Homo sapiens: one gene and its partners. The protein of the gene in region 3 purifies or fractionates together with the protein of the main gene of each other region. This does not show direct contact. Each region holds a gene or a part of one and is shown on either strand. Other genes may lie near its edges.

What was found.
Region 1: the proteins of RABL6 (region 3) and CPSF2 fractionate together in Homo sapiens (co-fractionation; one large-scale study listed by BioGRID). This does not show direct contact.
Region 2: the proteins of RABL6 (region 3) and EML4 fractionate together in Homo sapiens (co-fractionation; one large-scale study listed by BioGRID). This does not show direct contact.

The regions. Positions count from the first base shown.
Region 1 is NC_000014.9:92,169,807-92,172,645, forward strand, and holds the end of CPSF2 (cleavage and polyadenylation specificity factor subunit 2), read left to right. Parts: 3' UTR 1-2,339; downstream 2,340-2,839. UniProt on the Homo sapiens protein: Component of the cleavage and polyadenylation specificity factor (CPSF) complex that play a key role in pre-mRNA 3'-end formation, recognizing the AAUAAA signal sequence and interacting with poly(A) polymerase and other factors to bring about cleavage and poly(A) addition.
Region 2 is NC_000002.12:42,172,208-42,175,936, reverse strand, and holds part of EML4 (echinoderm microtubule-associated protein-like 4), read right to left. Parts: intron 1-3,729. UniProt on the Homo sapiens protein: Essential for the formation and stability of microtubules (MTs). Required for the organization of the mitotic spindle and for the proper attachment of kinetochores to MTs. Promotes the recruitment of NUDC to the mitotic spindle for mitotic progression.
Region 3 is NC_000009.12:136,824,849-136,828,577, forward strand, and holds part of RABL6 (rab-like protein 6), read left to right. Parts: intron 1-930; coding exon 931-978; intron 979-3,645; coding exon 3,646-3,698; intron 3,699-3,729. UniProt on the Homo sapiens protein: May enhance cellular proliferation. May reduce growth inhibitory activity of CDKN2A.

The DNA of each region.
Region 1 (2,839 bases), on a different chromosome or scaffold from region 3:
ATGAAACCGTTAAGTAGAGATTTTTCTAATAGTATAAAAATCAGTGTAGGCCCAGCACAGTGGTTCACACCTGTAATCCCAGCACCTTGGGAGGCTAAAGGCAGGAGGATTGCTTGAGCTCAGGAGTTTGAGACCAACCTGGGCAACATAGTGAGAACTCATCTCTATTAAAAATCAGAAAAATTGGCCAGGTGTGGTGGCTCATGCCTGTAGTCCCAGTTACTCAGGAGGCTGAGGCAGGAGGATCCCTTGAGATTGAGGCTTCAGTGAGCTAATGATCGCGCCACTGCACTCCAGCCTGGGTGACAGAGTGAGACCCTGTCTCAAAAACAACAAAAATCTCAGTGTGACAAATTCCTAACAGCTCAAATACTACTTGTCTTATTTGTTAACTATTTTGAAATAATTTTAAACTTACAGAAAAGTAGAATAGTTCAAAAGATCCTGTATATCCTTCCCCTAGATTCTTCTATTGTTAACATCTTGCCATATTTTCCATACCACTCTCTAGCTATGTATTCACATTATTTTTTGAACTGTTTGTTACTAAGTTGCAATTGTGATGTCCCATTAGTACTAAATACTTAAGTGTATACTTTTTAAAAACAAGGACACTCCTACATAACCACAGTACTTAAAATCAGGAAACCAGCATTGATAAAATTCTACCATTTGATCCACGAACCCCATTCAAATGTTGCCATTTACTCCAAAAATATCCTTACAATAACCCTTTCCTTTTTTGGTCCACAGTCCAATCAGGATGAAGCACGCATTTAGTTACATTTTCCCTTTAGTCTTCCTCAATCTGGAGCGGTTCCTTGGTTTTTCCTTTTTTGTGACCTTGACATTTTTGAAGAATGCAGGCCAGGTACTTTGTAGAATGATGTGCACTTTGGGTTTGTCTGATATTTCCTCAAGATTAGATTCAGGTTGTGAATTTTTGGCAGGAATACCAGAGAGGTGATGCTGTCTTCTTCTCTGCATTGTATCAGGAGGCACATCATGTCAATTTTTTCCATTACTGGTGATGTTAATTTTTAACAGTTGGTTACGATGTTTTCAAGATTTCTCCACTGTTAGTATTTTCTCCACTTGTATTTGTTTTTTGGTATAAACTTAAAAAGTACAGCATGATGTTTTGGTATATGTATCCATAGTGAAATGATTATTACAGGTATTAATTAATGAGGAATTACGTATTTTGTGGGTAGCTATTTTGAGACTCTCAATATCCTATTTCTCAAAATTTTACCCTTTACTTTTAGCATCCATTGATGATCCTTGTCTGGATCAGTTATTGCCAAATGGTAGTTTTCTTTTCTTTTCTTTTCTTTTGAGACAGTGTCTTGCTCTGTTGCCCAGGCTACAGTGCAGTGATGAGATCATAGCCCACTGCAGCCTCAAACTCCTGGGCTCATGCCATTTTCCCCTCAGCTTTTGGAGTTAGCTGGGACTACAGGCATGCATCACCACACCCAGATTATTTTTAAAGTTTTTGTAGAAACGGGGTCTCTTCTTCCCCATTTATTCAATATTTATATCAGTATAGAACATGGGTCCCTGTTTTATCATCTGTAAGTTATGATTTATTTTGATGCCCCCATTGTCCAAGATTTGACTAGCGAGAGCACTTTCCAGCTAGCTCCTGTGTCCTTTGGACATACCCCATGGTTCATTGAGCACTTCCTTGCTTTCTGGCACCACAAGATGTTCCAGGCTCGTCTTCTATTTTCCCTACCCCGCTCCTGACATCAGCCATTTCTCCAAAGAGTCCTGGTTCATATTAGTGGAGAATGGTATTTAAAACCAAGATCCGGATGCTAAAGGCTGTGCTCATTGCCCCTGTGCTAGCATTGCCACTGTGCGTTCTCCCAGTGGACAAATTTGGAAATATATGCGTCTATGCTTGTTACCTCATCCATCCATATATATATTAAAAACAAGTACACACTGATACCTATTTCACATCTACTCCACAGAGTTTATTCTAGTCTTCTCCCTTTCCACAATTGTATCTTCTCCACCCTATATTTAAAAACTGGACTTCCAGAGTCTCCAATACATTGGCTTATTTGTTCATTTTCCCTGTGATTAACCAACCTCCTGACCACGTGGCTGGCTCCTTTGCTCCATCTCTGCCCCTCACCCCCTACCGTACATCACTGCTGTGAGGACCAAGTTTCCTCCCTTTCCTCGATCCATGACAGCACCTGCCAGTTGAACCCCACAGTGGGAATTTTAAAGAAGGCACTTTTGGCTCAGATGGCAGTGCCAAAGCAGGCATTCCAATTCACATGGTGCTCTAGCAATTGTGAAATAAACAGATTCTGAAGGTCTGTCCTGGACTGTGTATAGTCTTTGGGTTTTTGTCTTGCTTATTTTGTTAAAATGTTTTCCTGATGACTTTCTATTCTATAGTAAAGCCTTATACATAATGTTCAAGCAGGCGTCAGACAAAATAATGATCATTGTGGAGAGGAGTTAGGAAGGAAAAGATGAAAAGGAAGAAGGCGTAAACCCAATATTGAGAGGAGAAATGGGTACGGCAGGAGTAGCCGTCTGAATCCGAAATGCTGTCTGAGCCAGGACACATTCACAGTTAGAGATCTTAAGTAATGTGTTAATATTATTTTATAACTGTCCTTGCAAAAACAAAACAAAACTGCCTGTCAGTTCATTTGGATCATCCACCCACTTAAGTTTTAGGAGTGTCAGGACCAAGTTAGCTGTATTGAGTGCTGAGGTGTTCTTTTATTAAACAGTCAGCTATTCAATCTTAATAATTTGTAGTGGGAGGAATAATATGCCCCTGGACAAATAATTCCTTGGAAAGCTC
Region 2 (3,729 bases), on a different chromosome or scaffold from region 3:
TTAAAAAACTAAGCATAGGAAAAGACTAAGAACAAGTACATTAACATGTTAACATCAGCTGCATACAAATGGGCTAAAGATAATTTATTTTTCTATTCTTCTTTCCTTTCTATGGTGTTTTATTTAAAAATAATATGATGCTGGGCATGGTGACTCACACCTCTAATCCCAGCACTTTGGGAGGCTGAGGTGGATGGATCACTTGAGGACAGCAGTTCAAGACCAGCTTGGCCAATATGGCAAAACCTCTTCTCTATTAAAAATACAAAAATTAGCTGGGTGCGGTGGTGCACACCTGTCATCTCAGCTACTCGGGAGGCTGAGGCACAAGAATCGCTTGAATCCAGGAGGCAGAAGTTGCAGTGAGCCAAGACTGTGCCACTGTACTCCAGCCTGGGCGACAGAAACTCTGTCTCAAAAAAACAAAATAAAATAAAATAAAAATAATATAGATACAAACACTCCCAACCATACAAAAAAAGAAAAAACCTGGACTTAACCTTTTAAAAAAATAACACACTCTTGGCCAGGTGCGGTGGCTCACGTCTGTAATGCCAGCACTTTGGAAGGCCGAGGCAGGCGAATAACAAGGTCAGGCGATCACAACCATCCTGGCTAACACAGTGAAACCCCATCTCTACTAAAAATACAAAAAATTAGCCAGGTGTGGTGGTGAGTGCCTGTAGTCCCAGCTACTCGGGAGGCTTGAGGCAGGAGAATAGCTTGAACACGGGAGGCAGAGGCTGCAGTGAGCCAACATGGTGCCACTGCACTCCAGCCTGGGCAATAGAGCAAGACTCCGTCTCAAAAACAAACAAACAAACAAAAACACGGCCAGGCACGGTGGCTCACACCTGTAAGGGAGGCCAAGGTGGGTGGATCACACAAGGTCAGGAGTTCAAGACCAGCCTGGCCAAGATGGTGAAACCCCGTCTCTACTAAAAATACAAAAATTAGCCAGACATGCTGGCGGGCACCTGTAATCCCAGCTACTAGGGAGGCTGAGGCAGATAACTGCCTAAACCCGGGAGGCGGAGGCTGCAGTGAGCCGAGATCGCGCCATTGCACTCCAGCCTGGGCAACAGAGCAAGACTCTGTCTCAAAAAACAAACAAACAAAAAAAAACCACTTTCTAGACCTTTTTCACCTATAAAAGTATAATAATTTATCTCCCAAGGTTAGTATGCAAATTAAATGAGATAAAAGCTCTTTGTAAACTGTAAATAAGGAATGCTTTAAAATAATATTTAAAAATCATATACAGCATGCAAAATTAAGGTATTATAAAAGCCTAAGACAGCTAAAGGACAAGAGATCATATACCGACATACAAATATACTACAGGGTCAGGCACAGTGGCTCACACCTGTAATCCCAGAACTTTGGGAGGCCAAGGTGCGTGGCCATCACCCGAGGTCAGGGGTTTGAGACCAGCCTGGCCAACATAGTGAAAACCTGTCTCTACTAAAAATACAAAAATTAGCCAGGTGTGGTGGTACACAACTGTAATCCCAGCTACTCAGGAGGCTGAGGCAGGAGAATCGCTTGAACCCAGGAGGCAGAGGTTGCAGTGAGCTGAGATCGTGCCATTGTACTCCAGCCTGGGAGACAGAGCAAGACTCCGTCAGACACACACACACAAAGAAATATACTATAGATTTGGGAATCTTCCACACTGAGGTAATACTAGATGAAGTAGATTCTTTCCCTAAACTTTTTACAAGTATTAGAATCTATTTTAAAAATCAAAATATTTTTCTAAAATTTCTTATGAATATTGAAGTTTTACATGTTACAGAAATGGACTCCCACATACAAAATACAGTATTTTGCTACATGTTATTCCAACTTACACATAAGACAGAAAAAGACTCCCTAGAATTTAAACTGCTAAATTATTTCATTGTTTTAAAAAGCCAAGCTCTGCAGAGATAAATCTAGCAATCAACAAATGTTCTCTCAGAAGTTACTTGCTTGAAACATAGCACAGCATTCTAAATGGTGCTTCCTCCCTTCATCCCCATTTCTGGTACTTAGGCTTAATAATAAACATCTCTACATACAGTACATACTTTATTTATTTATTTATTTTTTAGAGGCAGAGGTTTGCTCTGTGGCCCAGTGGAGTGCAGTGGTACAATCATAGCTCACTGCAACCTTCAACTCCTGTGCTCAAGTGATCCTCCTGCCTCAGCCTCCCAAGTAGCTGGGGTTACAGGCACATGCCACTATGCCTATTTTTGTTTTTTTTGCAGAGACAGGGTCTTGCTATGTTGCCCAGGCTGGTCTCAAACTACTGGGCTCAATCGATCCTTCCACCTCAGCCTCCCAAAGTGCTGGGACTACAGGCGTGAGCCACTGCACCTAGTCATGGTACTTATTTAAAAACCAGGCAGTAAGCTCCTAAAGGGCAAAAAGCATGTCTTTTACTTGTCTTTCCCATAAGAACCACCAAGCATAGTGCTAGCCCATGTTCGATGTTAATCCATACATATGTTGAAAAACACTCTAGCTAACTCATGTTGAAGATGCTCTACTAACCATTTAAGAGTTACTACTCATGTCTGGTTACACAACTTGAGTCTATCTTGAACTCTTCAAGAGGCAACCAATAAAAAAAGTTTAAAAAAAAAACCTCTCCAAATATTACATGAAAAACATTTTCATGTAAATAAGGAATGCTTTAGATTAATATGTGAAAATCATATACAGCATTGTTCCTTTAAGAAAGCAAGACTATTATCTGTGATGAGAAATCACAGTTCTAACAATGTGATGTTAAAAAGACTAATTTCTGAATAGTCCATAAGTTGAAGCATACTGCTATACTTGTTCACATTTACAACCTGTACCCAGAATGTTGTTTCTTATAGATCCTAATCCAACAATTTCATTCACTATGATTTTTCTTAGGGGGAAGAAGATTTTAAGTTTTGTTGTTTAACTTTTGAGGCAGAAAAATTTAAAGCTGACTGGTTAGGTATAAGGTTTCTTTCAAGTGAAAACAGACTAATCTCTAGGTTAATTCCAAGATAAAAGTCTTAAAATTAAACCTCTATTATGAAAGAGATTCTAAAAAGATTAAGCATGAAATGCACCCAATCCCTGCCTTATAAAAAATCGGTAAAAGCTGTATGAATAGCTTCCCACTTTTGCACATAGACCTGAGATTTAATATACATACAGTATATACATTTTGCACATGGGTATCTATATGTAGTGATTTAGAGGCAACACATCAAGGTAATTGAGTACTTTTCTCTCCTAAGTTTAAAAAAAAAAAGGTTTCTAAAGTGCTGCCTTAAGTTACCATAATTTGTGGATTAAAAGATATATTAATAATACCTAAGGGAAATTCCAGAGTACAAGCACCTGCCAGCCAAGTTGCCTGAAATTCATCAGCTGCGGAGATTAAAAGAATTCTTCACTTGTTTTTTATGTAAAACAAAGATAACATAATCAGTACCATGTAACTTCAATGTGGCATTTATAAAATGGCCAATCACTTATCATTCCTATGATTTAAAAAACCACTACCTAGTCTTAATTGCCATTAGACATCTTATAAAATGCACATAACACAGTGGATTTCTTATCTAAACATGCAACAATCAAGGGTACAGTTTGAATTTTAAGTTTTCACTTCACAAAATGAGTCACCATAGGATTCTCTGAAATAATCTCTTCTCTAAAATTATTCTGTTTATAAAGTACTCAATTTTTCTGCTT
Region 3 (3,729 bases):
GAAGCTCTACCTGCCACCGCACCCTCTTCCTGGTTTGGGGTGAGGCTGATGGCAGCGTTCATGCCCCTCTGCTCAGGCGACGTGGATGTGATTGGTGTGGGGGCAGATGCCTGGCTGTGTGAGGGCCCCGGGCGTGCCTCTCCCCTCTGGTTCTCCCTTCCCCTTGGAATCCTTGGGTGGGCGGGAGGCTCCATCCATCAGCTCCCCCAGTCCCCAGCACGCCCCACAACAGAGCACAGTCATGGGAGCTCAGGAGGAGTGGTTGGCACCAGCAGGCCCAGCTGCGATGGTGCGGTGTGAGGCAGGCCTGGGGCCTCTCAGGTGGCTCCGAAGGGAGGGTCCGGCCTCCGCCCTCAGTGATTACTTAGATTCTGCTCCCTCAAAGTGAACTAGAGGCCAGTCACTGGATGAAGAAACAGGGTCAGAAGGTGACACAGGCGGGCCCATTCATTCGCACCTGTCAGCAGAAGCGTACTCCATGGGCAAAAACACAGACATCGACCCAGCCAGGAGGGTCCCCTTCCAGTATGCTGAGGCCAGGAGGGGCCGTGCCCAGGATCGGGGCCCGGGAGGGAGGGGCCGTGCCCAGGATCGGGGCCGGGGAGGGAGGGGCCGTGCCCAGGATCGGGGCCCTGGAGGGAGGGGCCGTGCCCAGGATCGGGGCCCGGGAGGGAGGGGCCGTGCCCAGGATTGGGGCTGCGGAGGGAGATACCGTGCATTCAGTTTGTCACTGAAGCTGTGTCTGAGCGAAGGCCTGAAGGAGCCGCCATGTGGTCGTCTGGGGAGGACACATCCCCTGCTTCTGGACACTCGGAAGTCCTGGTGGGAGCCGGTGGCTGCGGGGCACAGACAACCACACCAGCTGGACCGCTTTGTGCCACCTTGGGAACTTCATGTTGGGCACTAATTTTAGGATTCTCCCTGTTTCAGCCACGGATGACATCGTGAAGGTTGAAGTCTGGGATGTAGTAGACAAAGGTGAGGCGTCTCTGTTCTGTGTCTGCTTCTCTCTGGGACTGTGTGCTCTGCGCAGAGAGGCTTCCTTTCTTTCCCCCGGCGCCCATGCATCACCCACCATCCTCGTGGACGGTGCCCAGGGTCTTGCTGCTCTGCTCCCCTCCACATCCAGTGGCGACCCCGCAGCGTGGCGCAGCCCCTCCTGTGGCACTGCATGCTTTGCTGCTTTAGCATACTCCCCGTCTCTGAGTGACCGCGTGCACGGTGGCGGCAGGTGCAGCCGGGGGGTGTGCTTTGAGCCCCAAGGCCCAGGGTGCTATTTTGGGAGCCCTCCTCCTGCACTGCCTGGCGGAGTAGCCCAGCACCAGGCGGCCCCCTGCCCATAGCTGAGGACCCAGCTCCTGCGCTCCTGTCCCTGCCAGGGATCCCCAGCCACACAGACCTGCACTCTGGGGACCGTGGGAGGGCAGCACCAGCCCCCGGGGTGTCCTCGACATCGTTGGTCTCCTCCTCAGCCACAAGGTCATGAGTTCCTCTAAGTCCTCAGGGTGGAGCTCATGGCCCTCCCCGGGGCCCATGGTCCGTGTGCATGTGTGGTGTGTGCAGGGCTGGCCACGTGCACGCCCCGGCCTCACAGGCCTGGCTGTGGCCTCGTTACGAGGCTCTGCTGGAAAGGCGGCCGCCGCCTCTGTGTGATGGTGTCTGTTCGGATGGCGCATGCTCCCCTCCCTCCACCTGTGCTTTGTTGGGGTGGGTTTGGCCATGGGGGGTTAGAGGCAGGTGCTCATGCAGTTCCCGCAGGGGTGCTGGGCCCCTGCGGCTCCCACCACATTGCGCTGGACTCTTGTGGCCCGTGCTGACCTGGTGTTCCAGATGCTGTCTCTGCAGAGCTCTGCGTGGTCTCTGGTGTTAGAGAGGTGGCCACCCACCGCCCTATCATTGTCCTCATCCCCACTGTGAGGAGAAGCTATCAGATCTGCCTGTGGCCCCCAGGTGGCTCAGGAAGGGCCGTCCTGACCCCCATCCTGGCCCCTTTCGGAGCTGCAGAGATTTCCTGTGCCTCCAGCTCTGGCTTCCTGGGTCTGTCCTTGGCGTGGAGCGGGCACAGGCTTCCCGTAGACACGGTTGCCCAGAGTGGGGTTCATAACTGGGCACTGTAAAGGGTGTGGTCTCCACGGCTTAGGATGGGCCCCCCCTTCCTGGTGGCCTGCTGTGCCCGGGGCTGGTGTGGAGGCCTGTGGGTGCAGAGGCCGCCTGGCCCTGGGCTTCCTCTGGGGTTACATGTGTACCCTTGCACCCACCTGTTAGCACCCACCGGGAGAGTCTCACTCAGCCTAAACCAGGGCCCCTCAGGAGGAAAAGGTCCCCAGCTTCATGATGGGGCCCAGTGTGCCTTCCATCCCCGCCCTGACTCAGTGCCCACTGTGCGAGGTGTGAGCACTGTCCACAGCAGCCAGGGCGGCCGGTGGGGAGTGCATTGGAGGGGGTTGAGGTCTCTTGGGCACCTGGTGAGTTCTCAAGGGTGAGAGGAAGCCGAGGCCATCAGGCTTAGCTGACGCTGCATGGGGCAGGCTGCCAAGAGGGAGGCTGAATGGAGCAGCCTCAGGTGAGCCGACAATCCTCACCTCCGCCTGGTCAGCCAGGACCCGGCTCCCCTCCAGTCCCGCCTGCTTTCCCCAAAGCAGATCCAGCCAGTCTCAATGGCTCGCCCGGGGGGTGCTGGTTAGGCTGTGAGCATCCTTCCTGGGTGCAGGCCCCCGACAGCCAGCAGTGCTGTGCTGTGTGTGTGTTGGGGACTCTGCTGAGCCCTTTGTGGCCAGACTGGGGAGGCTCCTCCGGGCTGGCTCTGTCCCCTGTACCTTGTGAGGGAGGGGCTGACCCCCTGACTGGGTTACATCGTGGTGAGCAGTTCAGAAACAAGCTGTGGAATGAAGTGGACGTGGCGTTTTAAACACATGAGCCCCATCTGTTCTTAGGGGTTTTGTTTGTTGTCCCAGTCCGTGACTCCAAGACTGGGACCCCCAGAGTTCCCAGGATGGTCTGGAGCCTTTATCCTCAGGTCAGCATTGTGGAGTTAAAGGGAGGGGACCACGGCCCCTCATTCTCAGGAGAGCCATGGTGACCTTGATGGCGGAGGCTCAGGGGGACCTGGACCGTGGACACCACACAGCTGCCCTCCTCCCTCCCGAGGCCATTTCAGGGCTGGAATCCCTGCCCCCCTCTCCTTTCCTCCCGGGCTGGTTGTTGCCTTGAGAGTCCGTGCGCTCATCTCCCCACTTTTACCCCAGGGGGAGGCCCCTCACCTTCCCACCATATCCCTTGTACTTCCTCCCACCCTGGACTTGGGGGAGCTGGGGGGAGGGGGCCCTTCCTTCAGCAGCAAACCCTCCTGGTGTAGGGCTGTAGGCCATCCCACCGCAGCCTGTCCAGGAGCTGCTGAGCCTGTCAGCCCCAACTAGCACCTCCTGTCCAGGCCCGGCCCAGCCCTGCCTCCAGAGCCTACAGAGGGGCCTCGCCCAGGTCCTGCTGCTCCAGAGCTTGTGGGTGCCCACGCTGCAGGCTGTTTGGGGTGGTGGAGTAGAGCACCCGCTGGAGCTGGGGGCTGAGTGGCCATGGGGGGACCATGCTCCTCCTATGGCCCAAGGCCCAGGGGTTCCACCTCGTAATTTTTGTTTGTTTTTAAATAAGGAAAATGCAAAAAGCGAGGCGACGGCTTAAAGATGGAGAACGACCCCCAGGAGGTGAGTGCCAGGTACACAGTGGGTAGCAGTG